Linked DNA regions of Homo sapiens: region 2 is linked to region 1. The links come from fine-mapping of genetic effects on gene expression. A gene starts in region 1. The other region holds a variant in brackets. All regions are shown on one strand. Distances are from middle to middle. Region 1 holds the start of LIME1 (Lck interacting transmembrane adaptor 1). Region 2 holds the start of ARFRP1 (ARF related protein 1).

What was found. PIP is the estimated chance that this variant, and not a neighbour inherited with it, causes the effect.
Region 2: its variant is fine-mapped to the expression of LIME1 in whole blood (TOPMed, PIP above 0.99).

The regions. Positions count from the first base shown.
Region 1 is chr20:63,727,854-63,743,168 of GRCh38, reverse strand. It overlaps LIME1 (Lck interacting transmembrane adaptor 1), which reads right to left and starts at 6,505. Exons shown (of 6, transcript NM_017806.4): 1 at 6,457-6,505; 2 at 5,522-5,636; 3 at 5,267-5,348; 4 at 5,109-5,196; 5 at 4,670-4,986; 6 at 4,066-4,571. The coding sequence starts at 5,619. The coding sequence ends at 4,269. It overlaps ZGPAT (zinc finger CCCH-type and G-patch domain containing), which reads right to left. Exons shown (of 7, transcript NM_181485.3): 3 at 9,817-9,950; 4 at 9,430-9,582; 5 at 8,345-8,464; 6 at 7,605-8,010; 7 at 7,027-7,388. The coding sequence ends at 7,250. SLC2A4RG (SLC2A4 regulator) reads right to left here and starts at 3,393. Exons shown (of 8, transcript NM_020062.4): 1 at 3,131-3,393; 2 at 2,638-2,792; 3 at 1,690-1,799; 4 at 1,113-1,300; 5 at 939-1,039; 6 at 554-833; 7 at 379-470; 8 at 1-290. The coding sequence starts at 3,256. The coding sequence ends at 179. RefSeq lists silencers at 2,276-2,975, 2,986-3,135, 3,386-3,885, 4,890-4,949, 5,030-5,179 and 1 more and enhancers at 4,610-5,204, 5,404-6,320, 6,900-7,079, 10,277-10,819, 10,820-11,363 and 2 more.
Region 2 is chr20:63,700,084-63,715,398 of GRCh38, reverse strand. It overlaps ARFRP1 (ARF related protein 1), which reads left to right and starts at 7,423. Exons shown (of 8, transcript NM_001267547.3): 1 at 7,423-7,532; 2 at 8,302-8,400; 3 at 8,661-8,748; 4 at 8,960-9,042; 5 at 13,182-13,263; 6 at 13,499-13,569; 7 at 14,697-14,797; 8 at 14,869-15,315. The coding sequence starts at 8,308. The coding sequence ends at 14,956. ZGPAT (zinc finger CCCH-type and G-patch domain containing) reads right to left here and starts at 7,360. Exons shown (of 7, transcript NM_181485.3): 1 at 7,281-7,360; 2 at 6,235-6,846. The coding sequence starts at 6,818. RefSeq lists silencers at 7,088-7,247, 7,288-7,347, 7,768-8,007, 8,098-8,147 and enhancers at 6,475-7,435, 8,298-8,357, 14,978-15,315. The variant G/C (reference allele first, on the strand shown) is at 12,142.

The DNA.
Region 1 (15,315 bases):
CCCCGACCTGGCGGGGGGGAGGGTTCAGGGTCAGCCCCGCCCCCCCACCCCAAGTAAAAGCAGACCCTGCAGCTGGTGAAAGCCAGCCCCTGGGGCTGTCCTCGGGCTGTTTCAGCCCCGGGCCTGGAGGGGGTGGGGAGGGAGAAGGTGGTAGCTTATGTTCTTGAACGAGCCGGACTTAGTCCAGGAACCGCTGGCAGGCTTTCTTCCAGCGGCAGGCTGTGCACCAGAGGTCCCGGCGCTCCATGCCATACACCTTCCGGCACTTCTTCGCGTCGCCGCGGGGCTTCCTGTGCGGGGGGTCACAGGACATGGGGTGCTGTGAGACCAGGACCCTCCCCACCTGGTGCCAGCCGCAGGCCCTCAGCCCACACGCACCTCAGGGTGACTCCGATCCTGGAGGACAAGGCGGGTGGGCAGGCTCCGACCTCCGTGGGCTGCGGCTCCAGGCGGGCGGGCGTCAGGCAGCCCTACAGGGAGACACAGCCAGGGCTTCACTCCCCTCCAGAGAGCCCTGAGACCCGCCCCAGCTGCCACCCGTGGCCTCACCCACCTGGTAGACACGGTCACTGTGACAGGACTGGGGGTTAGCAACGGTGCTCAGGACAGGGGGCGGGGGCAGGGGCGGGGCAGGCGGCCGCAGGGGACTAGGCAGGGCTGGGGGCTCCAGCAGCTCTGGCAGCTCCAGGCGGGGGAAGGCAGGCGGCATGGAGGCCGTGGGGGACACTGGAGTCAGGCTGGACAGCCCGTCGGTCAGCGTGTCCACACCAACATCCAGCTCTGTGTAGTAGAAGTCCTCCTCACCATCACTCTGCTCAGGCTCTGCCTGCCTCCTGCGGGAGACACAGCCAGCCAGTGGGAGCTGAAGGGGTGGCCTGGCCGGGCCTCACAACCCCAGCCAACCCGCAGGCCCCGCCGCACCCCAGGCCCCGCCGCACCCCAGGTGCACCAGGCGGATGTGTCTCTGCATCGCCGACGCCGTGCTCAGCACCTTCCCGCAGCTCTTCCACAGACACTGGAACATGACCTGGGCCGGGCTCTGCAGCAACAGGGGCCAGGGTCAGGCTCAGCCGCCACACCCGCCCCTCCCTGGGGGCCGCCCCCAAGCTCACCTTCCTTTTTCTCAGGGTGGGCTCCCCAAACAGAAAGTGGGCTGCCTCGGGGGGCAGTGGGGGTGACGGGGTGGACGGAGAGGACTGGTCACTGGCCAGGTCCCATCCCCAGTCTCCACTGTTGCTGCTGCTGCTGTAGCTGCCTGGGGGCCGCACCAGGGCCTCCTTCCAGGGCTCCAGGCCAGGCTCTGTGGGGACACGGGCCCCCCGCCTTAGAACTTCGGGTGGGTCCAGGGAGTCCCTAATCCTGAGCTGCCCCTGTTCACCAAGTCCGGTGAGACTGGTGGGCAGAGCGTCTTGGAGGAGCTGGCCCCAGGGCTTGGGGAGAAACCCCCCCGGCACAGGAAAGGGTTGGCAGACGTGTGTGGCCAGCCGCGTGGAGGTGAGCAGGTCAGGGAGGCCAGAAGGCCTGGGTCCTGCCGCTTTGGCCTCAGTAGGGGGCACTGAGGGTGCGGGAGTCCATTTTAGAAAGGAGTCCCAGGTTTGAGGGCTCTGCTTGCCCCACAGAGGCTGGGTGGCTGTAGGTTCTGAGCCCTGTCCCCACCCACACCCCTAAATGCAGACATCTGAGTCTTACCTGGGCTGAAGGCTGCAACCGGGGCCCCCAGAAGGAGAGGGCTGGTGGACAGGCTTGTAAGGGCAGCGGCAGCCATGACCTCGTCCAGCCGGGCTTTTCCTGGGGTGGCTCTGGAGGAGATGGGGGCGGGGTGCGGGTGACCCAGCCAGAGCTCTGGGCCCCTCCCCTGGTCGGTCCACGTGCAGGCCTGGGCACGCGTGCACACCAGGCTCCCCACTCCCAGCCCTGGGCATGAGGCCTGGCTCCTCCCCCAGCTCAGGTTGCAGAGAGAGCTGAAAGCCACCCGGAGCCGCCAGGAGCAGGGCCAGGGTCTCCTGAAGCCTGAGTTCTCCACATCGCGGGCTTGGCTCCACTGTGGTTCCTTCAGATACTGGGGCTGGGCAGGGGTCTGAAGCCCTGGCAGAGGGGCGGGCCAGGCCCAGGCCTCCCCCCATCACACATTAACCAGGGTTGTGCAACAGCAGCTGTGGGCCTCACGCCAGGCCTGGGAGGTGGGAGTGGCCAGCAGCCGGCAGCAGCCAGGGGGAGACTGGGCTGGAAGCACGGGCAGCTCCCCAGGCCCCAGCGAGCCAGGCCAGGGCCCGCCCCTGCCCTGGCAGCCAGACCGAGGTGTCCGGCCTGGCAGGGGTTGGGAGGTGGCGGTCAGGAGCCCCAGGGATTCCTGGACAGTCGCCCCATGCCGACCGCGCAGCCTCTTCTGCACAGAGACGCACAGCCACCCGCTCCGGGTTCTGAGCTCTAGCCCCGAGGAACTGCGGTGGAGGGAGGTGTAGGGACTCCCAGTCATCGATCATTTCTGCTCAGCTCCTCCAGGGCTGAAGAGCTTGGGGGTGGCTGGTAATTACAAACCTGGGGCCCTGACCTGGCCTCCGTCGGGGCCGGTGTCTCCGCACCCCACCCACCGCCCCTGCGCACACCGAGTCCCGAGGCACCGGGCCTCCCGCTCACCTCTGCGCTGGGACGGGGATGTGCGCCGACGGAGTCCGGGGCCCCGCCGCCGCCCCCGTCCACGTCCGGGGGGCCCCCAGGTCCGAGGCCCGCGGCTCCGACTCCTGCGGCCGCGCGAACTCCAAGCCCGCGAAGCCGCCGCCCACGGAAGAGCCCTGCGGATGGGGAGGGGGCAGACTCAGCGGAGGCGGTGGCCGGGGGAGGGGGGTCCCTCAACCTCCGCCGCGGATCCGCTCGGCGCCCGCCTCGAAAACCGGCTGCGGCCGGTGTGGACGGCGCGGCCCCGCCCCCGGCCCCGCCCCCAGCCCGGCGCGGCGGGAAGGGCTCCCCGGCCGCCCGGCGCAGCCCCGGCGGGACCCACGGACACGCGCGGACCGACGCGGCCGCCCTCCCCGCTGCCCCGCCCCCGGGGGCCCGAAGTTTGGGCAGCACTGACGCCATCTTTGCAGCGAGAGAAACTTGGTCGGCGCCCCCGCCCACCGGCGCCCGGTACCTGCGGCGGCGTGGGCACCGTCACGGGCGCGGCGCGCGGCCCCGGACCCTCCGCGCGCAGCCACGGCGCCTCGGCCCGCAGCGCACTGGGGTCCCGGCCGGCGGCGCGGGGCGGGGGGCGCTCCATGGCCGGCCGGCCGGGCGCCGAGGCTGCAGCGGCGAGGGCTGACTCTCAGGACGCGGCCCCGGGCCGGGCCGGGCTGGCCGGGCCGCCGACCCCCGCCCTGGATCCGGCCGCCGCCCGCGCCGCGCCGCCCGGAGGCTGCCCGGCCCGCCCCGCCCCGCCCCGTCTCGTCCCGCCCCGCCCCGCCCCGTCCCGTCCCGTCCCGGCGCGCGCATTGGCCGCGCGGCGTCCACACCGCAGGCGGGCGGGCCCGGCCGGCCGCGCTCCCGCCGGCCAGCGCTTCGAGGCCCCGCCCCGGGCCCGCCCCCTCCGGGTCGCTCCCGCGCTGGCCTAGGGAGGGAGGCCCGGCCCGGCACAGCTCCGAGGCCTCCGCCCACCTCGCGCGCCCGCGCGCCCCGCCGGGGAGGGCCCGTTCCCCACGGGCGCGCTCGCAGAGCTGCCAGAGCCGGGGAAGGGGCCGCGATTGCTTGGCGGGCTTCCCGGCAGCAGGTTACTCTTTAACGCTCGACTGCCCACCTCCACCACCCCTTATGTAACACCAGGCTGGGTGGCGGAGCCCTCCCGTGGAGTCCAGGGTCCAAGTCCCACCCGGGGGCGGCCACCCTGCCGGCTGCGCTGCCCCCTAGGAGTGGCTGGGACCCCGTGCCCGCACTGACCGAGAGTCTGGCCGGCAGGAGCACCGCCTCGGCTAGGCCCGGGCGCCCCGGGGGCAGCCAGTCCCCCAAGGCCAGAGGGGACAGCTCCAAGCCTTCCAGAGAAGCCCCCCGCCCCAACCCGCCCAGCTTTCAAGAAGAGCAGGCTGCGAGGCTGGCCGCTTTCATCCTGCGCTGGCGCTTTATTTAGACGCGGGCCTTCTCTGGAGCCCGGGGAGGCCGCGGCTGTCAGAGCGGCCAGGACCTCACGGACCTCACGGGCTGGCAGCCCGGGGACCTGGGACTGGCGCTGTCAGCTGTGAGGCGGGGCGGGGCGGGGGACGGGCCTCACTCTGGAGGAAGGAGCACAGGTCCTTGAGTGTTCAGGGCAGGGAGGCAGGGAGGGGTCTCCAGCCCCTCCCTAGGCTGGGGCAGCTGGAAGCAGGGGGCGTCCCAGCCCCGCACGTGCTGCTCCTGCCAGCAGGGTCCCCCAGCTCCCGGATGCTCTCATACACGTTTTCCAGGGGGCCGCTGTCCACATCCAGGGCCCTGAGCGGGAGGGTCTGGTAGGCCAGGTCACCCGCCAGGGCCAGAATCGCTCCCTGGCCCTTGGGGTCCAGCGGGTCTGTGGTGGGTCCTGGGTCCCTCCTTTTAGGCTTGCAGACCCTGGAGTACAGGACGTCCACCTGGAGACAGGAAGCCAACCCGAGGAGGGGTCAGCACCATCCAACCTGCTGAGGATCTGCCGGCCCCACCCACAGCGCCCTACCCTGGCCCACGTTACCTGAGCGGCCGGGGTCACCTCAGTCTTCCCCTGCTGTGGCTCTTGGGGACTGCGATGGGTCCCTTTGCGCTTCTGGACGCGGGCATACTCGGCCACCACAGGGCTGGCCGCCAGGCTGACCCCGGGAAGGGCCGCCAGCCCCACGTTGGAATAGGTGGCCTCGAGGCCAGCGCACCCTGCGGTGGCTGCAGCTGCCGGCAGAGCCCGGGGCAGCTCCTGGTGTGGGAAGGCAGAGGGGGCTGCCTGCGGTCCGGTGATGTCCCTGGACACCTCCAGCCAGTGTGGGCGCAGGAGATCCATGCTGGCAGGCCGCAGGGCTGGGGGTGGGGTCAGGGCAGAGTTCACTCCGGGCAGGGGGCAGGAGCGGGTCTGGCCCAGGGGTTGGCACGCGCTGCACAGTAAGCCCCGCCCGGCCGCCCCCGCCCCGCCCTCTGCTCACCCCTGCTGCTGCGCGGGCCCCGGTGCAGCTCGTGCAGTCTGGTGTCCGACTTGCTGAGGGAGCAGAGGTGGGTCCGCCTCAGTAGGGACTGGGGGCGAGGAAGGCTGGTCGGTGCCCTGCGGACCCCACCCTGGTCCCCGGGACAGCCTGGCACTCACCGCTTCCGCCGCCGTCGCACTGCCCTGCAGCCTCGCCCGCTGCCTCCGCGCCCTCTTCCTGGGGGCTACAGCGTCCTCGGGCCTTGGGGGTAGAGGTGGGGGGCGGGGGGCGGGGTCGTCAGCCTCGGGTCCAAGGCCCGGTGCAGGCGCGCGTGCCGAGCTGGGTGCGCGGACCTGCCTCCAGCCCCTTCCCGCGCTGGGCTGTGAATGGCAGCCGCAGCGAGGCCCCAGACAGAACGCGGCTGAGGGACCTACCTGCGGCAGGCTGTGCACAGCGCCCACAGCGAGAGGAGCAGGGCGCAGCACCCTAGAACCCAGAGGGCAGGAGGGGCCCAGGACACTGGCAGCCCCATCCTGTGAAGCCGAGGCCCTGGGGACAGAAGAAAGGGGCGCTGGGGGCTGGCCAAGGGGACCTGGCGCCACCTGGCAGCCCCAAATCTGCACCTCCCGCGGCTGCGGGGCTCCTGCGTCTCCCGTTCCAGCTCTGACTCAGCACAGGAAGCCCCAAGGCCTGGCAGTCCCTCCCTCCCAGAGGTGCCCACCTTCTGGCGGGGGCTCCCGGTGAGGTGAACTAGGGCTGCTCTGCCTGGCCCCTCCGTGTCCCTGCGGGTGACCACGGTAACACCCAGCACGGCCGTGAGGAGGGGCAAGACAGCTGTGGCCACCATAGCCCAGATAGTAACCAGCATCGGGGGAGCCCCTGGGTGTGCGCCACAGGCCACAGACTCCACCTGCAGCCACCCTCTGCCCAGACATGGTCTCCTGTGTCAGGTAGTGCCCCCAAGCCGCTCGCTGCGGAGCCCAGAACTGGGAAGAGCTGGAGGCTGGTCAGCAGGAGGGACCCTGCACCCGGAGGAGCTGGAGGCTGGGTCAGCAGGCAGCAGCAGCTGCTGGGGGTGCTGATGCCCCCACCCCACTTCTCTCTGGCTCTTCTTGTCTGCCAGTGTCTCTGCCAGAGAGGATCTGTCCCCTTCTTGGGGATCTTAGCAGAACTTCTCGGGGTGGGGGATGCCTTACAAACAGCACAGTCCAGCAGCAGAGACAGAAGCTGGGGGGTGAGGGGTGGTCTCTGGAGTTTGGGGCCAGTCTGCTCAGACCCAGGGAGTGGGCTTCAGCCTGGCTGACTGACCCAGCTGCAGCCACATCCCAAGGCCTCCCAGACCCCAGCTGCCCCCCAGGAGGGCACTTACCAAGCCCACGGCCAGGGGTCCTCAGCTCTGTCTGGGGCAGGCCAGGAAGGTCTTTGTGCAGCCCTCGGCTGAGCTCCCCACCTCATCACTTCCTGCTCCTGTCGCCAAGCGCCTCCCCTGAGCCTCCCACCCTGGGCAGCAGCCACCACCGCAGCCTCACCCACCTGCTGCGCCCCGCCCGAAGCCTAGATGAAACGTGTGCGCCTCTAGCCCGCACTGTTCTGACAGCCTAACTCACAACCCCTCCACACACGAAGACGTGAGCAGAGCTGGCACAGAACCCCCAAACCCACAGGGCCAGGTCCGCCTGCCTCACCAAGAGTGCCCCACGTGGTGGGCCACAGTCCTCTCCCGCCCGTCTCGCCCGCTGGAGCAGCACTGAGCTCCACCCATCTGTGGGTGTCAGGCAGCCTGGCGGGCACCCTGGCCTCCGATCTGCCTTGGTCAGAGAAGGGTAAGAAGGGAGAATGCCGGCCTCCTAGGCCCCTCCAGCCCAGCCCGTCTCTCACCACAGCCCTGCACAGACCCTTCTCTCCCCAGAGACCCTGCAGCCAGCTGATCTCCACTGAATGACACTGTGATGAAATCACTTTAATGTCCTTGCCAAGGAAATGCCCAAGACACTGGCAGGTGGGCAAGTAAGTGTCCAGATGGGACCCCGCAGCTCTGTCTCCACTCAGCAGTGTCTGCACGCCCCAGGCCAGCAGGCCGGCCCCTCCTCGGGCAACACTGGTCTTCCTGAGGGCAGCCCGTGCTGGGGTCCCACGCTTCGTCCATAGTGCTTGTGGGGTCTCTAGAACTCAGTCATCTTCTTGTGGGTGTCTGCCTTCCTCTGCTCCTGCTGCAGGCCGGCTTCCTGAGCCCGGAGCTGCCCCAGCTGGCGCTGGGCTCCTGCCAGCTTCTCCTGCAGCTGGGCTGACGCCACGCTATGCCTGCGGAGGGGCTCACTAGTCAGCGTGGGGTCCTGGGCCATGCCACCAACCCCAGTCTGCCGTACCCACTGCCTGTGTGCCCGCTGCCCGTCCTCCAACATGCAGACCCCTCCTGGACTCAGCCCGCTATGCTTGGGTCAGGTGACCTCCAGCATGTATCCCGGGGGCAGGGCCACCCTGGGTCGCCCTTTGCCCTGAGCTGGGCCCCACACGTACCGGCCAGCGTTGCGGGCGAGAGCCTCCTGGATGCTCCTGATGTCCCGCTGGGTTCGCTCGATCTTCTCCTCAGTCTGGAAGAGCCGCAGGCTCAGGGCCCGCTTGGCACTCTTGCTGGCATGGTACATGTCCTTGCTCCTCCTCCCCGCTGGGGCCGCCCCGGCTTCTAGGGCCCCAGGAGCCTGACCTTGCAGCTTTTCATTGAGGAAGTCAAACACATTCCGAGGAGCTGGGCGGCCCCCAGGCCTGGCCCCTCTTCCCCGGCACCTGGGGGGCTTGTTGGTGCCAGCCTTGCCAACCCTGGTCTGCTTCTGCAGGGTCTCCACACACTGGTCCAGCGACTTCCCTCGAGGCAACACCACAGCATGGATGGGCTCCACCCGGCCTTCCGCGTGTCGGCCCAAACCTGCGGAGGCACGGGGATGGCAGTGCTGTGGCTGCGGGACCCCGGGAATCTGAGGAGCACGGGGATGGCAGTGCTGTGGCCACGGGACCCCGGGAATCTGAGGAGCACGGAGATGGCAGTGCTGTGGCCGTAGGACCCTGGGAATCTGAGGAGCACGGGGATGGCAGTGCTGTGGCCGCGGGACCCCGGGAATCTGAGGAGCACGGGGATGGCAGTGCTGTGGCTGCGGGACCCTGGGAACCCGATGGCTGCGGGACCCCGGGAACCTGATGGCTGCTGGACCTGGGCTATGCTGCAGCAGCCTGCCCACTTCTCCAGGGCAGCTTGTACTCACCCTTGCCAAACTCATAGCCCATCTTGGTGAGGAGTCTGGAGCCTATACCTCGCGTGTGCACCTCCCAGCCAGCAAAGGCAGAGCTGCAGGTCCCAGAGTCCACAGCATCTGACCCCACCACTGCAAGAGACGGACAGAGGGCAGAGGACTGTGCAGAGTCCACGGCGTCCGACCCCACCACTGCAAGAGATGGACAGAGGGCAGTGGCCCAGCCAGGCCAGAGGATTGTGCATGGTGACCCGGGCTTTGACCAATGAGCTCAGATCCTGGGCAGAGCCACGACACCCCACCTCTTGGGCTCCGTGCTCTCGTCACCGAGGCTGCTGTGGGCATGTGACACCAGGCAGAGTGCATGGCAGTCCCCACGGCCTGCTGCACCGTGGCCCCTCCTCCGCAGCCCTCTCCTGCCCCTGCCCTTCTCCACCTTCGCGAGGCTGTGAGCGCCTCACCTGCCCTCACAGAGTCCTTGGTTCAGTCCTCCTTCACCAGGGACATGGGGCTTCAGAAACCACCATCACTGATCCCTGGGTACACCTCCAACATGCAGACCCCTCCTGGACTCAGCCCGCCATGCTTGGGTCAGGTGACCTCCCACATATATACACACACACGCACACGCATACACACACCCCTCTGGAGAGCTGGACACTGCCCACCAGTTCCCATTCCCGAAACTTCCATGCTGGCTGTCTGGACACAACCTCTGTCTGCCAGGATCCCAGGCACCCAGGTCCCAAGTCTGAGAAGCCATGCAGAGGAGCTGCCCCTCCTGCACTCCAGGCCCCATCAGTTGGTCATTTTCTGTGACTTCCTCGGCAACTCCAGGCCCCTCCTCTCCCATGGCCACAGCCACGACCATGGCCTCCCATCAATGAGACTGTAGCTGTTGCACCCACACTCCTTGAAGATAAAGGCCGCCACGGATCTACCCCTACCCACACGGCCTCCTCAGGCACAGGTGGCACCCTCGCCGCAGTCACACACTCTCCAATAGTTTGGTTAGATGGTTGGTGCCCTCACCGGCCAGGAGCCTCTCAGGGTGACCCCACCTTCCTGGCTCCTGGGCTCCGCAGCTGCTGCCATACCTCTGGCATAGCTGGAGTCACCCGTACCGTCGCTGTCTGAGTCGGACTCTGTGGCCTCTGTGCGCAGTGGGGGCAGGATGCCGTCCCCCTCCACCACGGCCTCCCTCAGCAGCAGCGAGTCAAACTTGACTGTGTAGTAGCCGTTGTCCACATCTGGGGGCAGAGACAAGCTGCAGGTCAGAATCCTTGACAGCAGGTGCCACTGAAGGGAACCACCCTGGACATGAGGAGCAAGGCAGGGCAGAGGCTGAGGGTAGGTGTGCTCATTTCGGGCCCAGAGCCAGAGTCCCGACACTCAACCCAAAGGAAGCAGGGAGCAGCCACACAGTGACAACACACGTGGGGCCTGGGAGGGTGTTCCCGGGAGGCCCCCACGGCCAGCCTCACCGGTGATGCGTGCTGCGTGCCAGAGGCCATCCTGGTGCTTGGCCAGACACGCAGAGCCGGCCTGCAGGGAGCTCAGGTCTGGGTCCTGGAAGGGGCGCAGCTCATCCAGAGAGACCACCTGCCCATGGGAGAACCTGCAGACAGAGCCGTAAGGGGCAGGGCTCAGACATGGGCCACCAGGGGCAAACCAACCCAGGAGCACTGACCCATCCGCCTGGGCACTGTCCTGAGGGAGACAGACACACACGCGTGCGTATACATACACACTCTCACACACTCACGCACACACATACACACGCACACATACACACACACATGCACACACTCACGCACACATACACACATGCACATATACACACGCACATACAGATACACATGCACACATACACTCACACATACACATATATACACACTTGTGCATATACATGCAGGCATATACACACACATGCATATACACACGTACACATACACGCATACGCACACGCGCATATACACATGTACACACACATGCACTCACACAGGCACACACAAGTACACATACACACGCATAAACATGCACTCACATGCATACACACACGCATATACATACGTACACAGGCATACACACACATATACAGACATACACATATACACATACACAAGTACACATGTATACACATGCATACACACATGCACACAGGCATATACACATGTACACACACATTAACACATGTACTCACACGTCATACACATACACAGAGACCCTGACACGCGTATAAACATGCACTCACACATGAACTCATGCAAATACAGATGCAGTCATACATGGATATACGCACACGCCATCTCACCCACACGCGCGCACACGTGCCCTCACCCACACACATACGCCCTCACCCACACACATGCGCACACAAGCACCCTTACCTACACACATGCGCACACATCTCTCACCCACACACACGCACACACAGGCCCTCACCCACACACATGCGCGCACACACACCCTGACACATGCACACACACACCTCACCCACACACGTGCACACACATGCCCCCTCACCCACACACATGCACACACACACGCCCTCACCCACACACATGCGACCTCTCATCCACACACACGTGCACGCACACATGCACCCGCACCCAAACATGCACACACAGATGCACCCGCACCCACACATGCACACACATATGCAGTCACCCACACGCGCACACACATGCACCCTCACGTGTAGACTGTCACGTGCACTCACTCATATATGCATATACACATACATGCACACACATGGCATGCATATACACACATGCATATACACACTCACACTTGCATACACACGTAGTCTCTTGGTATCCATGGGAAACCCCCTGTGCAAACCAAAATCCAAGGATGCTCAAGTCCCTTATATATAATGACATAGTGTTTGCATATAACCTACGCACATCTTCCCACGTACTTTAAATCATCCCTAGATTACTTGCAGTACCTAATACGATGTAAATGCTATGTAAATAGTTGTTATACAGTGTACAGACGCAGCCATCCTTTTCTTCCCCAATTATTTTCAACTCGAGATTGGTTGAAATGATGGATATGGAACCTGCAGATACCAAGGGCCAACTGTACACTTTACACACGTATGCACACACAATCTCACACACACAAAGGGCCAACTGTACTTTACACACATATGCACACACAATCACACACAGGGCCAACTGTACACTTTACACACATATGCACAATCACACACACACCAAGGGCCAACTGTACACTTTACACATGTATGCACATGCACACATACACACACCAAGGGCCAACTGTACACTTTACACACGTATGCACACAATCACACACACACCAAGGGCCAATTGTACACTTTACACACGTATGCACATGCACACATACACACCAAGGACCAACTGTACACTTTACACACGTATGCACATGCACACATACACACACACCAAGGGCCAACTGTACACTTTACACACGTATGCACATACACAATCTCACACACACAAGGGCCAACTGTACACTTTACACATGTATGCACATGCACACACACACACAGTCTCACACACATCACACACACAGACACCCGCATTCTCTCTCGGGATGGACTTGGCTGCTCCAGAATATGCCCCGTGTGTCCCATCGCCTCTGCTGGAGTCACAGTGTGGCAGCAGCCTTCTGACAGCAGCTCCCACAGCCTCACTACTGCACAGGCCACAGCACCAGTGCATCAAGGCAGATGTGCTGGGGGTGTGTATGTGCATGACTGAGTCCTCCCCCAAACTAGGAGAACCTGCTTATGAAATAGTGATGCCTTGACTTTTAGGCATCAGTGAACCAGTAAAATTAAAACCAAAACCGAGACACACACACACACACACACAGAGAGAGAGAGAGAGAGAGAGAGAGAGAGAGAGAGAGAGAGAGAGAGAATGAAGAGGAAATGTGGGGACAGACAGAACTGCAATCTTCAACTTTGCCAAATAAAGACATGAAAAACCAACCGCCATCCACTGCTGCCATGCCATCGTTTCAAAAAGGAAGTTCTTTCAACCCCACAAAAGCAACTGAGGGGCCAGGTGCAGCGGCTCACGCCTGTAATCCCAGCACTTTGGGAGGCCGAGACGGGTGGATCACGAGGTCAGGAGTTCGAGACTAGCTTGGCCAACATGGAGAAACCCGTCTCTACTAAAAATACAAAAATTAGCCGGGTGTGGTGGCGCGTGCCTATAGTCCCACCTACTCGGGAGGCTGAGGCACAAGAATCGCTTGAACCCGGGAGGCGGAGGTTGCAGTGAGCAGAGATTGTGTCACTGCACTCCAGCCTGGAAGACAGAGTGAGACTGTCTCAAAAAAACAAAAAAGGAGCAACTGAGGACAGGCCTTCAGCCCGTGACATGGAGCCAAGGCTGTCTTTCCAGTAGGAACGGGTGGGTGGAGCAGAGTGAGGTGGAACAGGGATTTTGTCTCATGCGTAGACAAAGGTGGCCTCGTACACCTCCCCAGGCCAGGATTTTGGGCGGTTCCTTCTAGTGCCTACTGTTCTTAGGCACACAGGGCCCTGCCAATGACCGGGGGCGCCAGGGGCTACAGGACTGTGCCTCAAATGCACTGCAGCAGAGACTGGCTGAAAGGAGACTGAGAACATGTTCAAAAAGAGAGGGTTAAACCCAGAGTGAATTCGATTAAATACGCCCCTTCAGCACACCCACACCATCATTAGTAAAACCTCTTCTAGAATATTTGACAATATTAAAAGCCTTGAAATTTGTAAACTCTTTAACCCAGAAAGTGCTTCTATTATTTTGTGTGTGTGTGTGTGTGTGTGTGTGTGCGCAGTAGAGTCTTGCTCTCTTGCCCAGGCTGAAGTGCATGGTAGGATCACAGCTCACTGCAACCTTGACCTCCTGGGCTCAAGCAATCCTCTTGCCTCAGCCTCCCAAGTGGCTGGGACTATGGGAGTGTGCCACCATGCCAGCTAATTTTTGAATCTTTTTGTTGAGCCAAGGTCTTGTCATGTTGGCCAGGCTGGTCTTGAACTCCTGGGCTCATGTAATCCTTCCGCCTCAGTGACATGATTTTTAAGGAGAATGTATGTAAAGATTTGGCCACAAAGATATTAACCAAATATGAAAAACTTGGAAATAACCTAAATTTCTAACCATGGAGAGAAGTTAATGGCATATCCATGAAGTTAACTGAAAACCAAGAGAACAGGCAAATCGATCAATGGAGCAAAAGAGAGCCTCCAGGAAGAGCCCCCCCTCACACAGAAAGCCTCGTGTGGCAGAGGAAGCATCACAGATGGGGTGCAAGGAGAAAGACGATGGATTTCACAAGAGAAAATTAAAAACTGGGTTTTCATACATAAAAGATCCCAACCCAATCACCTACCTCACAGCATTGACAGAAATACATTCCAGAATTAGTAAAGACTTAACCCTGAAAACAAACAACATCTAAAACTAAAAGAAGCTTCTGAGTTCCAGCCACACTCAAGTAGAGAGGTCGTTGAATCGAATATGGGCCGGGAGCGGTGGCTCACGCCTGTAATCCCAGCACTTTGGGAGGCTGAGGTAGGCGGATCACTTGAGGTCAGGAGTTTGAGACCAGCCTGGCCAACGTGGTGAAACCCCACCTCTACCAAAAATTTAAAAATGAGCCGGTGTGATGGCGTGCGCCTATAATTATGCTACTCGGGAGGCCGAGGCAGGAGAATCGCTTGAACCCAAAAGGCAGAGGTTGCAGTGAGCCAAGATCGCACCACTGCACTTCAGCCTGGGTGACGAAGTGAGACTCCATCTCAAAAAAAAAAAAAAAGAAAAAAAGAAAAAATAATCTAAAACTAGACAAAATTATCAAAACTCACTGATTTAGAACTTTTCAGAGTTCTGGAAACTGACCAAAGCTGAGAACTCACTGAGAAGAGATTCTTCTTGAAAAATGTTGGGCCTTGGGCCAGAATACTGGGAAGTCTACAGCCTTTGCACCTGGGGCTGCCCCTGGCTCCTACTCCTGAGTCAGCAAATCTGAGTGATTTACCAGGTCAAGGCTGGCTGCAAAAACCAGCAGCAGCAGAGGTGGATGTGGGACAGAAGGGAAAACCCAGGCCTCGTAGTTAAAAGTGGTGACTCGATAAACACTTACAAAGAAAACTGACAGCCCTGATCATTTGGGGCTGTGATCCCAGCTGGAGTGAGCACTGGGCCAGCCAGATACTTAACAGGAAGACTCTGAAAATGAGAGCCACAGAAGGGCTCAGCTCTCCCAGGAAGGGCCTGGCTCTTGAGGAAACCACTGCAGGTGTTGGGAGCTCCAAGAGAGGCCAGGGTGAAGTGAAAGCAAAGAGAGAGGGGCTGGCTGAACTCACAACGTGCTCTGAAACCACATGGTGTGGTGGGGAGCCTTTTGGGTTAGGAGTGTTTGAGCACACCCTCTTGCCCAAATCCCTGGCTGACCACTACCATATGCAAACACAGAAGCAACTGCTAGGAAGCCAGACTAAAAAATAGAATTTAAGGCCGTGCGTGGTGGCTCACACCTGTAATCCGAGCACTTTGAGAGGCCGAGGTGGGCGGATCACAAGGTCAGGAGATCGAGACCATCCTGGCTAACACGGTTAAACCTCATCTCCACTAAAAAAACAAAAAATTAGCCAGGCATGGTGGCACACATCTGTAATCCCAGCTACTTGGGAGGCTGAGGCAGGAGAATTGCTTGAACTCAGGAGGTGGAGGTTGCAGTGAGCTGAGATGGCACCACTGGCACTCCAGCCTAGGCAATACAGCAAGACTCCATCTCAAAAAAAAAAAAAAAAGAATTTAAAAATCTGAGCAGAGATATCAGAGGCTGCAGGGGTGGGTGGGCAAGTTTTGCAGTTTAAGTCCAAACAACTTAACTAAAACAAACAGAACACAAGACTCAGGAAAACAACTCAGAATCCAGACATAGATCATCTGAAATGTCCAGTATTCAACAAAAAAAATTATAAGACAGGTAAA
Region 2 (15,315 bases), 28 kb after region 1:
GCATAGTGGCGGGCACCTGTAGTCCCAGCTACTCAGGAGGCTGAGGCAGGAGAATTGCTTGAACCCGGGAGATGGAGGTTGCAGTGAGCCGAGATCGCGCCACTCACTCCAGCCCGGCGACAGAGTGAGACTCTGTCTCAAAAAAAAAAAAAAAGAAAAAGAAAAAAGATAGGGCCAAGTGGCTCATGCCTATAATCCCAGCGCTTTCGGAGGCTGAGGCAGGAGGATCACTTTAGCCCAGGAGTTTGAGACCAGCTTGGGCAACAGAGTGAAATCTCATCTCTACAAAAATAATAATAATAAAGAGATAATACGCCATGAATATGCGTGCTTTATCTGAGGAATTCAAGGATGGTTCAACATACGAAAATCAATATACCACATTAACAAAATGAAAGGAAAAAAACCACACATGATCATCTAAAGGAAAAAAGCATTTGAAAAATCCCACACAGCTGGGTGCAGTGCAGTGACTCACCCCTGTAATCTCAGCACTTTGGGAGGCTGAGGCAGGATTGCTTGAGCCCTGGAGTTTAAGACCAGCCTGGGCAGCAAAGCAGGACCCTACCTCTACAGAAAAATTAAAAAATTAGCTGGGCATGGTGGCTCATGCCTGTAGTCTCACCTACTCAGGAGGATGAAGTAGGAGGATCCCCTGAGCCCAGGAATTCGAGGTTGCAGTGAGCCATGATCATGCCACTGCCCTCCAGCCTGGGTGACAGAACAAGACCCTATCTTTAAAAAAAAAATCAACACCCTTTCATGATAAAAAACACTCAACACACTATGAATATAAGAGAATTTCCTCAACTCGATAAAGGGAATCTACAGAAAACCTACAAGTAACATCATATTCAACAGTGAAAGACTAAAAGTTTTCCACCTAATATCAGGAACAAAAAAGTTTTCCACCTAAGATCAGGAACAAGATAAAGATGTTTGTTCTAGCCACTTTTTTTTTTTTTTTTTTTAAAGACAGGGTTCTTGCTCTGTCGTCCAGGCTGGAGTGGAGTGGCATGATCTTGGCTCACTGCAACCTCCGCCCCCCAGGTTCAAGCAATTCTCATGTCTCACCCTCTCAAGTAGCTGGGACTACAGGTGCACATCACCTCACCCAGCTAATTTTTGTATTTTTAGTAGAGATGGGGTTTCGCCGTGTTGGCCAGGCTGGTCTCAAACTGCTGATCTCAAGTGATCTGCCCACTTCCACCTCCCAAAGTGCTGGGAACACAGGTGTGAGCCACCACCCCCGGCCCGCTCTAGTCACTTTTATTCAACATTGTACTTGAAGTTCTAGCTAAGGCAGTTAAGCAAGAAAAAGAAATAAATGCCATGCAAACTAGAAACAAAGACTACAATTATCTCTATTCACATATATATTAATTGTATATATTGAATATATATGATTGTATATATCGAAAATCCTAAATAGTGCATAAAAAATCCTATTAGCACTAATAAACCAATTCAGCAATCAATACAGGATTAACATAAAAAAATCCACTGTATTTCTTTTTTTTTTTTTTTGAGATGAAGTCTCACTCTTGTTCCCCAAGCTGGAGTGCAATGGCGCGATCTCAGCTCACTGCAACCTCCGCCTCCCAGGTTCAAGCAATTCTCTTGCCTCAGCCTCCTGAGTAGATGGGATTACAGGCACCTGCCACCATGCCAGACTAATTTTTGTATTTTTAATAGAGGCTGGATTTCACCATGTTGGCCAGGCTGGTCTCGAACTCCTGACCACAGGTGATCCACCCGCCTTGGCCTCCCAAAGTGCTGGGATTACAGGCGTGAGCCACGGTGCCCAGCTTGTATTTCTATATACTAGCAACAAACAGCCTGAAAATGTAACTAAGGAAAACAACTCCAGCCGGGCACAGTGGCTCACATCTGTAATCCCAGCACTTTGGGAGGCCGAGGCAGGCAGATCACCTGAGGTCAAGAGTTCGAGACCATCCTGGCTACATGGTGAAACCCCATCTCTACTAAAAATACAAAAAATTAGCTGGGCGTGGTGGCAGGCACCTGTATTCCCAGCGACTCAGGAGGCTGAGGCAGAAGAATGGTGTGAACCCGGGAGGTGGAGCTTGCAGTGAGCCAAGATTGGGCCACTTCACTCCAGCCTGGGCAACAGAGCAAGACTCCATCTCAAAAAAAAAAATTAGCTGGGTGTGGTGGCAGGCACCTGTGATCCCAGCTACTTGGGAGGCTGAGCAGAAGAATTGCTTGAACCCGGGAGGCAGAGGTTGCAGTGAGCCAAGATTGTGCCATTGCACTCCAGCCTGGGTGACAGAGCAAGACTCTGTCTCAAAAAAAAAAGGAAAAGAAAAACAATTCCTTAGAGAAGCATCAAAAATAATACTTATTTAACCAAGAATGTGCAAGACTTGAACAGTACAAAATACTGTTGAAAGAAATTAAAGACGTAAATAAATGGACAGATCCTTCATTCATGAATTGGAAGACTTAATACTGTTTTTTTCTTCTGTTATTGTTGTTGTTTAAGATGGAGTCTCCCTCTGTTACCCAGGCTGGAGTGCAGTGGCATGATCTCAGCTCACTGCAACCTCCTCCTCCCAGGTTCAAGCGATTCTCCTGCCTCACCCTCTCGTGTAGCTGGGATTACAGGTGTGCACCACCTCCGACTAATTTGTTTTTTATTTTTAGTAGAGACGGGGTTTCACCACGTTGGCCAGGCTGGTCTTGAACTCCTGACCTCAAGTGATATGCCCGCCTCAGCCTCCCAAAGTACTGGGATTACAGGCGTCAGCCACCACACCCAGCCAGAAGGCTTAATATTGTAAAGATGACAATGTGCCCCAAACAGATCTACACATTCTATGCAATCCATATCAAAATTCAAACTGTCTTTTATGCAGAATTGGACAAGCCGATCCTAAAATTCATATGAAATTGCAAAGGATCCAGAAACAAAACAAACTTGAAAAAGAGGAGCAAATGGTGAATAACTACCACTTCCTGAGTTTAAAACTTATCACAAAGCTATAATAATCAGAACAGTGTGGTACTGGCACATATACACCAATGGAACAGGAGAGAGAGCTCAGAAATAAACCCTTACATATATTGCCAATTGATTTTGGACAAAAGTGCCAAGACCATTCAGTGGAGAAAAAGCAGTCTTTTAAACAAATGGTGCTGGGAAAACTGGAAATCCACATGCAAAAGAATAAAGTGGACCCTCACCTAATAACATATACAAAAATTAACTCAAAATGGATCAAAGACCTAAATTTAACAGCTAAAACTACAGAACTCTTAGAAGAAAACATAGGTGAAAATCCTCATAACTATGGATGAGGTGGTTTCTTAAACCTGATGACAAAAACATAGGCAATAAAGAAACAATAAATTGCACTGCATCAAAATTTAAAATGTTTGTGCATCAAAGGACACTATATCAAGTGAAAAGACAACCCAAACAATGGGAGCAAATATCTGCAAACTATATACTTCATAAGGGATGATATCCAGAATATATAAAGAAATCCTGGGCCGGGTGTGGTGGCTCATGCCTGTAATCCCAGCACTTTGGGAAACCAAGGCGGGATCACCTGAGGTCAAGAGTTCGAGACCAGCCTGGCCAACATGGTGAAACCCTGCCTCTACTAAAAATATAAAAATTAGCTGGGCACCACGTGGTGACAGGCGCCTGTAATCCCAGCTACTTGGGAGGCTGAGGCAGGAGAATCCCTTGAACCCAGGAGGTGGAGGTCATGCCATTGTACTCTAGCCTGGGCAACAACAGTGAAACTCCATCTTAAAAAAAAAAAAAAGGTCCAACGCAAATCCAAGAGAACTTATCAGTCCTGAATGGTGGCAAGGTGGACGTCTGTAAGATGCTCCGGAAGCTTTCAGATCAGGCCTGATGCCGACATGGCAAGCAGCACTGGGTGGAGCAGGGGACGGAACGAGGGCTGGGGGCAACCGGAGCCCTCTGAGCCTTGAAGCCCTGGACCACTCAGTTCTTCTACTCCTGTTTCCTCCTCTGTCAGATGGTGTGACTGCAGGGCCTACCTACAGGGCTGTTGCACAGATGAATGAAAGTATATGAAACCCTTGGAGCAGTGCCTGGCCCAGAGGGAGCACCACAGGGATGTGTCAGATCTCTCATCAAAGGGATCAGGAATTCGAGACCTGGGTAATATGGTGAAATCCCGTCTCTACAAAAAATACAAAAATTAGCTGGGCGTGGCAGTGCACACTTGTAGTATCAGCTATTAGGGAGGCTGAGGTGGGAGGATGGCTTGGGCCAGGGAGGCGGAGATTGCAGTGAGCCGAGATTGTGCCACTGCACTCCAGCCTGGGTGACAGAGCAGCAAGACGCTGTTTCAAAAAAAAAAAAAAAAGGAAGACATTCAAAGAACTAGAACTAGAACTAGGGATGGTTACACGGTCAGCCTGAACTATTGGCTAAAAAAGAAAATTACCTACTAGAAGGCTTGGTAAATATTTCTTCTAAGAGAAAAGTAAAAAGGAGGAAAAATAAAGCTATGCGCTTAGGGAAATAGAGACATTACAGTAATAATTGTTCATATTTGAATATGGAAGAGGTATTACCATTAAATGTGTTACCTATTATGACACAGAAGTTACTCTTTTTTGTCCTCACATCGGACTTGGACTTCCAAAAAGTTACTTTTTAAGTAATTTCCTAATCAGTTAGATTAGAGATGCAACTATGAAGTATTCATAATTGGAAAAAACCAGTAACTTCTGGAATTTGCTTTAAAATGGCCCAGGAAAGAAAAAAATAGGGCAGGGAGAACAGACAAAATGAGACTGGGAAAATATTAATAAATGACGACATTGGATGATGGACCGTGGGCGGTGATTATGCTAAACTCTCTAATTTGGGGTATGTTTGAAAATCTCCATGAAAGTAAAATTTAAAAGTTGAACTCTAGAGAATAAAACTAACAACAGGGCCAGGCGCAGTGGCTCACGCCTGTGATCCCAGCACTTTGGGAGGCCAAGGTGGGTGGATCACGAGGTCAGGAGTTCAAGACCAGCCTGGCCAAGATGGTGAATCTCCGACTCTACTAAAAATACAAAAAATTAGCCCAGTGTGGTGGCGGGCGCCTGTAATGCCAGCTACTCTGGACGCTGAGGTAGAGAATTACTTCAACCCGGGAGACAGAGGTTGCGGTAAGCTGAGATTGCGCCACTACACTCCAGCCTGGGTGAGGAGAGTGAAACTCTGTCTCCAAAAAAAAAAGGCCAGGCGCGGTGGCTCACGCTTGTCATCCCAGCACTTTGGGAGGCCAAGGTGGGCGGATCACGAGGTCAGGAGATTGAGACCATCCTGGCTAACATGGTGAAACCCCGTCTCTACTAAAAATACAGAAAATTAGCCAGACATGGTGGCGGGCGCCTGTAGTCCCAGCTACTCGGGAGGCTGAGGCAGGAGAATGGCGTGAACCCGGGAGGCGGAGCTTGCAGTGAGCCGAGATCACGCCACTGCACTCCAGCCTGGGCAACAGAACAAGACTCCATCTCAAAAAAAAGATAAAAAATTATAGTAATATAAAAATTAGCTGGGTGTAGTAGCGTGAGTCTGTAGCCCAGCTCCTAGGGGGGCTGAGGCAGGAGGATCGGTTGAGCCCAGGAGGTCCAGGCTGCAGTGAGCCAGGACTATGCCACTGCACTCCAGCCTGGTTGACAAAGTAAGACCCTGTCTCAAAAAAAATTAAAACAACCACCAAAAAAAAACTGACGATAGGCTGGAGACCTACTCTCTTCCACATAAGCCTTGCACTGCTGCTCGGGCTGCAGTACAGTGGCTGCATCTCCACTCACTGCAAACTCGGCCTCCTGGGTTCAACCAATTCTCCTGCCTCAGCCTCCTGAGTAGCCAGGACCACAGGTGCGCGCCACCACGACCGGTTCATTTTTGTGTTTTTAAGGAGATGGGGTTTCACCATGTTGACCAGCGTGGTCTTGAACTCCTGACCTCAGGTGATCTGCCCGCCTCGGCTTCCTAAAGTGCTGGGATTACAGGCGTGAGCCACCGCGCCTGGCCTCCTTCCATGCTTCTTGATTCACCCCAGAAGGAAGACGTAGACGCCTGAACACAGACACAGCTGTCAAAGCACGCCTGCCCCAGGAAGCTGAGACAAAACTGCAAAGCAAAGGGAGGGCCGATCCTGACCCGACCCTGTGTGCGTGCCCCTTACGCCCCTAAGGTTGGCATCTGACAACAAAGGGCTTTACCTGCAGTTCTCCTTAAAGCGGCACTTTCCCTCCAGGAAGAACGGGCACGGCTTCAGAGACTTGTGAGTGGGGTACAGGTAAAGCACACGGACACCCGCCGAGCCATCCTCCGCCTCTTCCGTTCCCACCACCATGGCGTTGTGATACTCCAGAGTGCCCCAGGAGCTGTAGTAGGGCGCGCTCACCTTTGTCCCACTCAGCTCTTCCTCGTCCTCTCCCTCTTCCTCCTCCTGCCCACCTGCCGCAGATTCTGGCCCCGCCTCTGCTTTAGGAACGGTCTCTGATCCGGACCCACGGGCCGCTGCTGGTGCCTCCACCGCCTCAGTGATGGCCTCCCGGAAAGCCTGGTACTCAGCATCTTCCTGGCGGCCCGGGCGCTCTTCGTCCAGCGCGGCCAACAAGCTGCTCTTCCTGACAGACACCAGGCTGGCCTCGGTGAGCTCGATGAGCTCCTTCAGGTCCCCCTGCAGCTGGCGCAGGTCAGCCTGCTCAGACGAATCCAGGCCGGCGCCCAAGGCCAGCTCCACCTGCTGCAGCTGCGCACGGTAGGTCTGCAAGGCCGACTCCAGGCTCTCCTCGTCCATGCTGAGAGAGGGAGGCGCTGGACCAGGGCTGCAAGAAGAGAAGCCAGCTGAGCCCCGCGTCTCGGGACCGACCCCACAGCCTGAGGGCGGGCACGGGCACGGGCACGTCCCCTTTCCCTCGGGGAGACACCGGCTCAGAGGCACAGCTCCCAGCGCAGAGGTCGCAGCCCGGGTACCCCCGCTCAGGCTCCGCGCTTCCCTTCCGAGCCGCCGTGGGCTCGCCGCTAGCCGGGTCCCGCGTCACTCCGGAGCCCCTTCCCCGCGGGGCGCCCCGCCGCCTCACCCTCCGCCGAGCCCACCCGCCGCGCCCGCCGCCTTCCAGGCCGGCCGCGCCCCCCCGCCCGGCGTCTCTTCTGTCTGGCCAGGGCCGCGTCCCCGCAAACCGCGGCCACCTGGTCCCCGGCCGGGCACCTCCTCCGCGCGGTTTCCCAGCCGCAGCCACAGAGAGCCCGCCGGCCTCACCGGCTAGAGCGGCCCGGCGCCCCCTTTTCGCCCCAGCAGCCGATCGGCACTTCCTCCCGAGCGCCGCCGCTTCCGGAAGTGCTTGGCGCGCGGGGGCAGCCGGGAAGCGGAGCGCGGAGGCCGCTGGGACGCGGTTCAGCTCATTCCCTGAGGCCGGCCCGCGTCCCGTCAGGCGCCGCGCGGGGTTAGCGCGGGGTCAGCGGAGGTCAGCGGGGGTCAGCAGCAGCGGCTCCGAGGGCGCGGCGGACGCAGGTAGGCCGCAGGCTGTGCGGTGAGGCGCGAGGCCCGAGGGGCGGCCCAGGACTCGAGGTGGGACGCGGGTGTGACAGGAGCCAGCTTTGGCTGCTTGTCGGGGAGCCTCAGACCTGGCGGCGGCGGCTTGGGGCGGACGTAGCCGGGGGCCGCGACCCAGGTTCTTCCTTCGCAGTCGTTCCCTGCCAGCCGCGCGCCGCCTCCAGGTGCACTCCAGGAGCAGCCGCGCCGCTGCTCACCCGCCCTGTAGTCCGCTCCCCCCAGGGCCGTCCCCGTTTTAAGAAATGGGGTGATGGGGCGTCCCTACCCGGCGCCTGCAGGGGCTCCTGGGGAGCGCGCCGGTGGCTCGCTGCTCCCGGGTGGGGCGCGGGGCTGGCGCTCGAGGGTGCCGTGGCCCAGGCGGGGCTGCAGCGAGTGTGTTCCCCGTTCCGCGCGCGTGAAGCGTGGGAGCGAAGCCTCGGGGGAGGGCGGGAGCGCGGCTGAGCTCACTGTGAACACCCGGCTGGGTAGTCCCGCGAGCAGGGGAGGGGCCGGAACCGATGTGTATGCGGAGAGGTCGCAGTCATTGCTGTGAGCAGGACACAGTGGCGGCTGACCTGGGAGAAGTTACAGAGGGACGGGGTGGGAGAGGGACGAGGAGTCGGGAATGGCCCCCAGGCTCTCGTCCTGAGCGGTCGGCTGGACGTGGGGCGCCACTGACCACCGTGGAGAAGCCCGGGGGAGGGGAGGTGCTTTCTGGCTGCACACTGACCTATGTTGGGGTGCCCAGGGCAGGATGTACACGCTGCTGTCGGGCTTGTACAAGTACATGTTTCAGAAGGACGAGTACTGCATCCTGATCCTGGGCCTGGACAATGCTGGGAAGACGGTGAGTGCCCACGCCCTTGCGCGCACCTTTCCCACGGCCTGGCGGCGCCCCCTTCGGTTTTGTGCTGTCAGCTGCACGTTCACTACCCAGACGGAAGCCAAATTTCACCTGAGACGGCAGGATAGTCACCACCAGCCTCCTGAAGAGCAGAGTGTTGCTCTGTTTCTGTTTCTGTCTTTTAAAGAACAGACCTGAGTAAGGATATTTGGAAGCCAGTATAGCCCCTCCTTGATGTGTTTCGCCTCTGCCTCTCTCCTCAGACCTTCCTGGAGCAGTCGAAAACCCGATTTAACAAGAACTACAAGGGGATGAGTCTATCCAAAATCACCACCACCGTGGGCCTAAACAGTAAGGGTCTCAATAGCAGGCTGTGGGTTTGGGGCCTTGAGGATGCCGTGATATTCACAGTCCAGCTGGCCCGTGGCCACAGCCCTGTCGGGCCCCTCTCAAGTCTCATTTGAGTGGCACCAGCATGGTTTGCCCCATCCCCTGGGAGAGCTGGGACTGGGTGTGTCGAGGACCAAGGTCATGAGCCTTGCCTGTTTCCTCCTCTCCCCAGTCGGCACTGTGGATGTGGGAAAGGCTCGGCTCATGTTCTGGGACTTAGGAGGGCAGGAAGAGCTGCAGTCTTTGTGGGACAAGGTAAGACTCCCTGGCCAGGACCACCCCCACCCCAGCCCTCCAGTGCCACTTCTTTCCAGAGTGCCCTTTGGGCCCTTCCTCAGCAGTTTTCCTTACCCACTCTGTCCCTCGGGTTTTCTCTCTGGTCCTGTCCCAGGTTCCCGAGTGGCTCCCTGTTTTGTCCCAGCTGAACCCTTAGCTGAAGTTGCCCCAAAAGTGGTGGTAGGGGAGTTTCCCACTTGGGAGTTCCCTGCGATGGGGCCAGTGGAGAATTCCAGGGAAAGAATCACTAAATGCCAAGGCGATCAGATCAGAGCATGTATTAGGGGAACCTGTTGACAGAGTGCGGCATCCTCAGGTGACCAGTGAGAGAAGGGCGTGTTCACTGGTCATGCCTGAAGCCGGGGGGGATCTGGGTTCAGGGCTGGGGCTAGTTTCTTTCAATGTTTTGAAACCTGAACATTATGTTAACAACCTAAACATCTTACAAGTGTCTGGGAATGTTCAAACCCTGGCTTGGGTTTGAGCCTAAGGGCAACCTCGCTGGCCAAGTCAGAGAGGTCAGGGCAGTCTGTTTCTTTCTCAGTCAGGACAAGACAAAGTGTGGGGACCTGGGGACCCTGCACTCCTCCAAAGTGAGTGCCTCCTTTCGGCTCAGAGACCTTGCTGCTGACCACCACAGGACACAGAAATGGCAAAGACCAGATGTGGGGACGGCAGGATGGCTGCCTCTCCCCTGATGAGGTTCCTTCAGTTCTAGCTTAACATTTGTTCTTCCATGATCACCAGAAGACTCCTCAGGGTCTCACAGCGGCAGTCTCCTATTTTGACACAGGTTTTGGGCATTTCTGAGATCCCAGTGTGGTGCCCCTTCCCCACACCCCCAAGGCTGCAGTTTATCTCCTTCTCAGCCTGGGCCAGGCACTGAGTCCAGCACTGAGCAGGGCAGAGCCTGTGGCTTCCTCGGGCTCCCTGCCCTAGGCTGGCACAGTGGGTGTGGGGTGTCCCCAGTGCCTTGGCTGCCCTGATGCCATCTCTAGAGCTGAGTGCCCAGGTCCTGATCTCTTTTTTGATCCTAGTTCCCCTTTCCTAGGCGCCCCCAAAGTGTCCCCTCCTGCTGTGACTTCTAGCCAAGAAGACATTTCTCCCATGGCCAAGTGATCTCTGATAGATCCTGTAGGACCACTGAAGTCAGACAGGACAAGTTGAGTCAGGGCCTGTGTGTCCAGTGCGCAGCATGCTTGGGGAGTGACACAGATGATGATGATCTTGTCACAGGCCGGTGTCTCAGGCACAGATGCTGAGACAGGTCGAGGTACAGGATGCACACTGGGGGTCGGCACCAGGAAGGCAGGGAGGACGGGAGAGGAGAGGTCGACTCAGGCAGCAGGATCCACAGAGCTGTGGTTGGCCCAGCAGGGAGCCCTGGAGGAGAACTGGCTATGCTGTGCCATGTGGGGCCAGGCTGGCCGGGACTTCACACCATGGCCTGGTGGGTCCCCAGTGTGGGCTGCCCTGGGCAGGTGTGACCTGGCAGTGTGGCTCTTTGCAGCCAAAGTGGGTCCCACAGAAACCAAAATGAGACCATCTGCTGGTGCAGTGTTCTCCAACATGAAGCAAGAATACAGTGGGGCCAGAGATGCCTGCACTGGCCACAGCTGCAGCCCTATGTGGACCCACACTTCCACGTTGGAGAGGGGTTCCTCCAAGGTCCTGAGGGCCTCTCTTAAGGCGAAACTGGAAGAGGGAGACTTAAGGGGGCCACTGTAGCCCATCCTTGCTGCTGGTCTTGGGGCTGCACAGCCCTTCCTTGAGTGCCCTCCCAATTCACTACCACTTCTGCTGGGGTGCGACTTCCTGGCAGTCTGAGCCCTTCTCCAGACACCACCGTGGTGGGGCCAGTGGCTCCCTGGGTCCCCAGCTGTGGGACAGCTGTGGGATGGCAGCCCCATCTCCTGCCCACCAGGGTCTCCTAGACATGAGGTGCAAGTCATGCCCATGAGGCAGCTGTGGCTCGTCATTCAGCGTGTCTGCTGAGTATGTGCTGCTCTAGTGGCCGGGACCCCTGACCCTGCTGAGCTCAGAGCTGGGAGGATCAGCTGCAGGGACCCCCCTAGGTCACTGGGAGGGACCGGAAGGGAGGCCCCTGCTCCCACCCTGGTTTCCTGTATCCTGCATCCTTGTGCAGAGCCAGCACCACAGAAAGGGGCGTCATTGCGAATTGGCCTCGTCCTGGGGCTGGACCCTGGGTTGGTGTCCACATGTGTGGCATGTGCCAGGACCTCAGCTCCTGGGTTCTTTGCTGTAACACTAGTCTCTCAGGCTGGCTGGCACTTTGCAGTTGGGGAGCTCCCATTGCTGCTGGGGAGAAAAACTCAGACCCACAGTCCCTCTGACTGCTCCACTGGGGTCAGCTGGCCAGCCAGGAGCCACGCTTGGACACCTCCCTCTTCCCCCTCCTTGTGGGGCACCCCACAATGACCACTGCTGTGACGCCTCCACTGGGGCGTGGGGCTCTGGGTCCTGCCCGCACTCAGCCCTGAGGTGTCGCTCCCGTCCACTGCGGCCCTGCTGGGCTGTGCACCTTGTGCCTGGTAGGTGTGATGGGTGGCTCTGGCCACGTGGTCCCATGGTCCAGGACCCGGTTGCACATGAACCTTCTGCCACCCTGCTCAGAAGCCCCAGGAGCCACGTGGAGATTCTCTCACTGGGCTTGCTGCAGCCTCCACAGAGCCGCCCCTCCTGCCACAGAGGTCTCCACCTTAGGGTCCGCCTGCTCCCTTGTGTCAGCAGCAGACAGCCGGCACACTGCAGGGTCCCTTGAGGGGTTGGCGGCCTCTGTGTGGGACCTGTCTGTAGGCCAGAGAAGTTCCTGGGGGTGGGGGGGCCTCGCTACCTGCAGAACCCTGGAGGGCGCCTGGCCTTGGGCCTCCTCTCCACTGTGGGAAGTTCCTGGGGGTGGGGGGGCCTGGCCTTGGGCCTCCTCCTTTCCACTGTGGGAAGTGCAGGTGCACAGGCTTCTCTCCTCTGTGGGAAGTGCAGGTGCACAAGCTTGTCTGGCACTGGGATGGGGTTGTCTGGTACTCCCTGCTCAGACACCCTAAGGATTTCGGAGAGTTG[G/C]GCTGTGCCTCCTGGCTTCTCATGCTCTCGGGTGTGTGTGTCTTAACACACTGACCACCAGCTTGTCCTACCTGGTCAGCATCCAGTTCTAGGTCTCTGGGCACTCATGCCTGGACAGGAGAGCTGGCACAGCCTGGAGGCAAAGTGGCAAATGTGAGCTGTTGTCTGCTCCACGTGGACGCGGAGTTTGCTGTGTTTTTTTCTGATTGAGATAGAGGTGCACTCATCTGGTCCAGGGCTCAGCACTTGTACCTGAGGCTGCAGGGGCTGTGCCCTGTCTTGCCCAGGAGTGTTGCCAGCGAGCCCAGGACTGACCAGCCCAGGCTGCAGAGGTCTGAGCTCAGTGACTCTGGCCCTGTCCTGGCAGGGAAGGCTCGCTTCGTAGATGGCGCTGGTCAGTCTTATCCGCATGGCCACACTCCCTCCCTGTGCGAGGTGCTGGCACAGAGCCCCACAGGTGCACTCCCTCAACGGGCCAGGCTGTGGTCTAGGTTCCTCCAGCCCCCAAACCCTATCTTTTTTTTGAGACAGGGTCTCTCATTCTCACCCAGGCTGGAGTGCAGTGGTGTGATCAGAGCTCACTACAGCCTCAACCTCCCAGGCTCAAGCCATCCTCCCACCTCAGCCTCCCGAGTAGCTAGGACTGCAGGCGCACATTACCATAAGCTTTTGTACAGACGGAGTCTCACTGTGTTGCCCAGGTTGGCCGTGAAGTGGGCTCAGGTGATCCTCCTGCTTCTGCCTCCCAAAGTGTTGGGATAATAAGTGTGAGCCACCACGCCTGGCCCAATCCCTGTCTTTCACCTTTGGCCACCATCAGGCCAAAGGTTGCCGGCAGGTTCTCAGGAGCAGCGTCTGGGGACACCTCCACCAGATCTCCCCGCAACCCCAGAATGCATCCCAGAAGGGTCTTGCAGTTGGGGGCTGCCCTCTTGCCCCTTCCTCATGTGAGCCCCTCACTGTGGCCATGACACAGGCCTGGCTCTGCTGGCCCTTGGCAGGGTGGGGACTGAGCCCCAACTCCTGGTGCTTCCTCCCAGTATTATGCGGAGTGTCACGGCGTCATCTACGTCATTGACTCCACCGACGAGGAGAGGCTGGCTGAGTCCAAGCAGGCGTTTGGTGAGTGCGGCCTGGCTGCTCTGGGAGGGATGGATGGTGAGTGGGGGCAGGTCCAGCTTGGGCAGCTCTGTGCCTGGGGCAGGCTCAGTGTCTGGTCAGAAGTGCTCCTGCCTAGTGGGTGACGGGGGGGGGGGGGGCAGAGGGAGTGGCTGTCACAGTGTCCACGCCTGTGGGCCCCTGGGCAGTCAGAGGCAGGATGCTGGGTGTGAGGCGCTGCCTCTCCTGCCCTCCCCAGAGAAGGTGGTGACCAGCGAGGCGCTGTGCGGTGTCCCCGTCTTGGTGCTGGCCAACAAGCAGGATGTGGAGGTGAGCCCCACCCCTGCCTCCCGCAGCAGCTTCCCGAGTCCCCAGCCTCCCCCACAGCAAGGGGAGCAGGTGTGCACCCAGACACCCCAGGCCCAGTGACTGCCCAGGGGGTACAGAGCCATTCTCAAGGCCTGCCCTGCCCCCAGCAGCTTCCCAAGCCTGGTTCCTCTCCAGACCTGCTGCTGCCAGCCCTGGAGGTTCTCCCACCTCAGGGCAGGCGCCCAGAGGCCTCTTCCTGCTATGCAGGGCACCTCTCCCCAGGAGGGCGGCCGTGTCTCAGGAGTGTGTGGCCAAGCTGTGGGGACACCCAGGTGAAACTCAGAGCTCAAAGAAGTGATGCTGGGGCCCTGGTGGGAGTCAGCTCTGACCCTTACCTGTTCCTGCTACCCTTGGAGGTGGCATCTGTGCCAGCCCCACCCCCAGGGCAGCCCCTCAAGACCCCTCTGAGGTGCCACTGCCCCCGGGAGCACTGGCCACGCTGAGTTCTAGCTGTTCTCTTGGAGTGGCTTTGCACAGAAGCAGCCCGGCGTCCAGAGGGCCAGGTGAATCTTCACTTCCTGCCTTCTCTGGGGTGGCTCTGTTGCCCCCAGCCTGTAAGGCTGGCCTCCCCTACAATCTCAGCCGACAAGAGGGACATCTGGTACGGGGCAGGGGTCTCCCCTCGGAGGAAAAGGGGAGGGGAGGGCTGCTTTTTGAAGACTGGGCAGGTGGTTGTGAGCAGAAGCCACCATGACTGCAGACTGCCTCCATCACTGATGCAGGGCTCCCACCTCTCCATCATCCCCGGCTGTGTGGGCCCCTGGGACCTGCCTCCGCCACTGCCCAGGAGGCCTCAGTCCTCAGCGCCCCACCTCGGGGCTCAGGGTGTCCCCCAGGGAGGGGATGGGGGGTGGACTCCTTGGAGCCGTGTGGACGTCTAGTTTGTCTCAGGCACTACCAGCCATGTTCAGCCTCGGGCTGAGCACAGGGTCCTCACTGCTGTGGTCTCTGTGGGAGACACTGGGACCCTGGTGGAGCTCTGGCTGTTTCCCTGGGGTGAAGGGCATACGCCCTTCTGAGAGTCCCGGGCCCACAGGCAGGACAGGGCCAGACGTGGGGGCTGCTCCTCACGGCCTTACCTCCCCCAGACGTGCCTCTCAATCCCTGACATCAAGACGGCCTTCAGCGACTGCACCAGCAAGATCGGCAGGCGAGATTGCCTGACCCAGGCCTGCTCGGCCCTCACAGGGTGAGTGGGGGCTGCACCTGCGGGGGCTTTGGGGACCGAGACCCCCCGCCTCACACCCGCTGTCTTCACAGCAAAGGGGTGCGCGAGGGCATCGAGTGGATGGTGAAGTGTGTCGTGCGGAATGTGCACCGGCCGCCGCGGCAGAGGGACATCACGTAGGCGCAGCCGCGCTGCCGTCGGGACGGCTGGTCCCCTGGTGCTGGAGGAGTGGCCTCCTGTTGGCTCCCATGCTGCTGATCTGGGGGGTGGGTTTGCTTTGCTTTGGGGTTCTTCTATTTACTTTGTTTTCTCGAAGACAAACTTTCCTCTATGTCTGGAAAAGCGTAGGCATCCGGAGGCTTTGGAGGGGAGTCTGGCAGCCCGGCTGGCCCAGGCCCTGCAGCGGCAGCCTTTCCACAGGGCGCAGCGGCGGCCTTTCGAGGCCCTTTCTGGGGGGTCTGAGGGAGACCTGGTTGGGAATTGGGGCTCCAGTGCTCAGGCTGGCTTGGGCTGCATGAGGACAGCCCTGTGGGACCCTC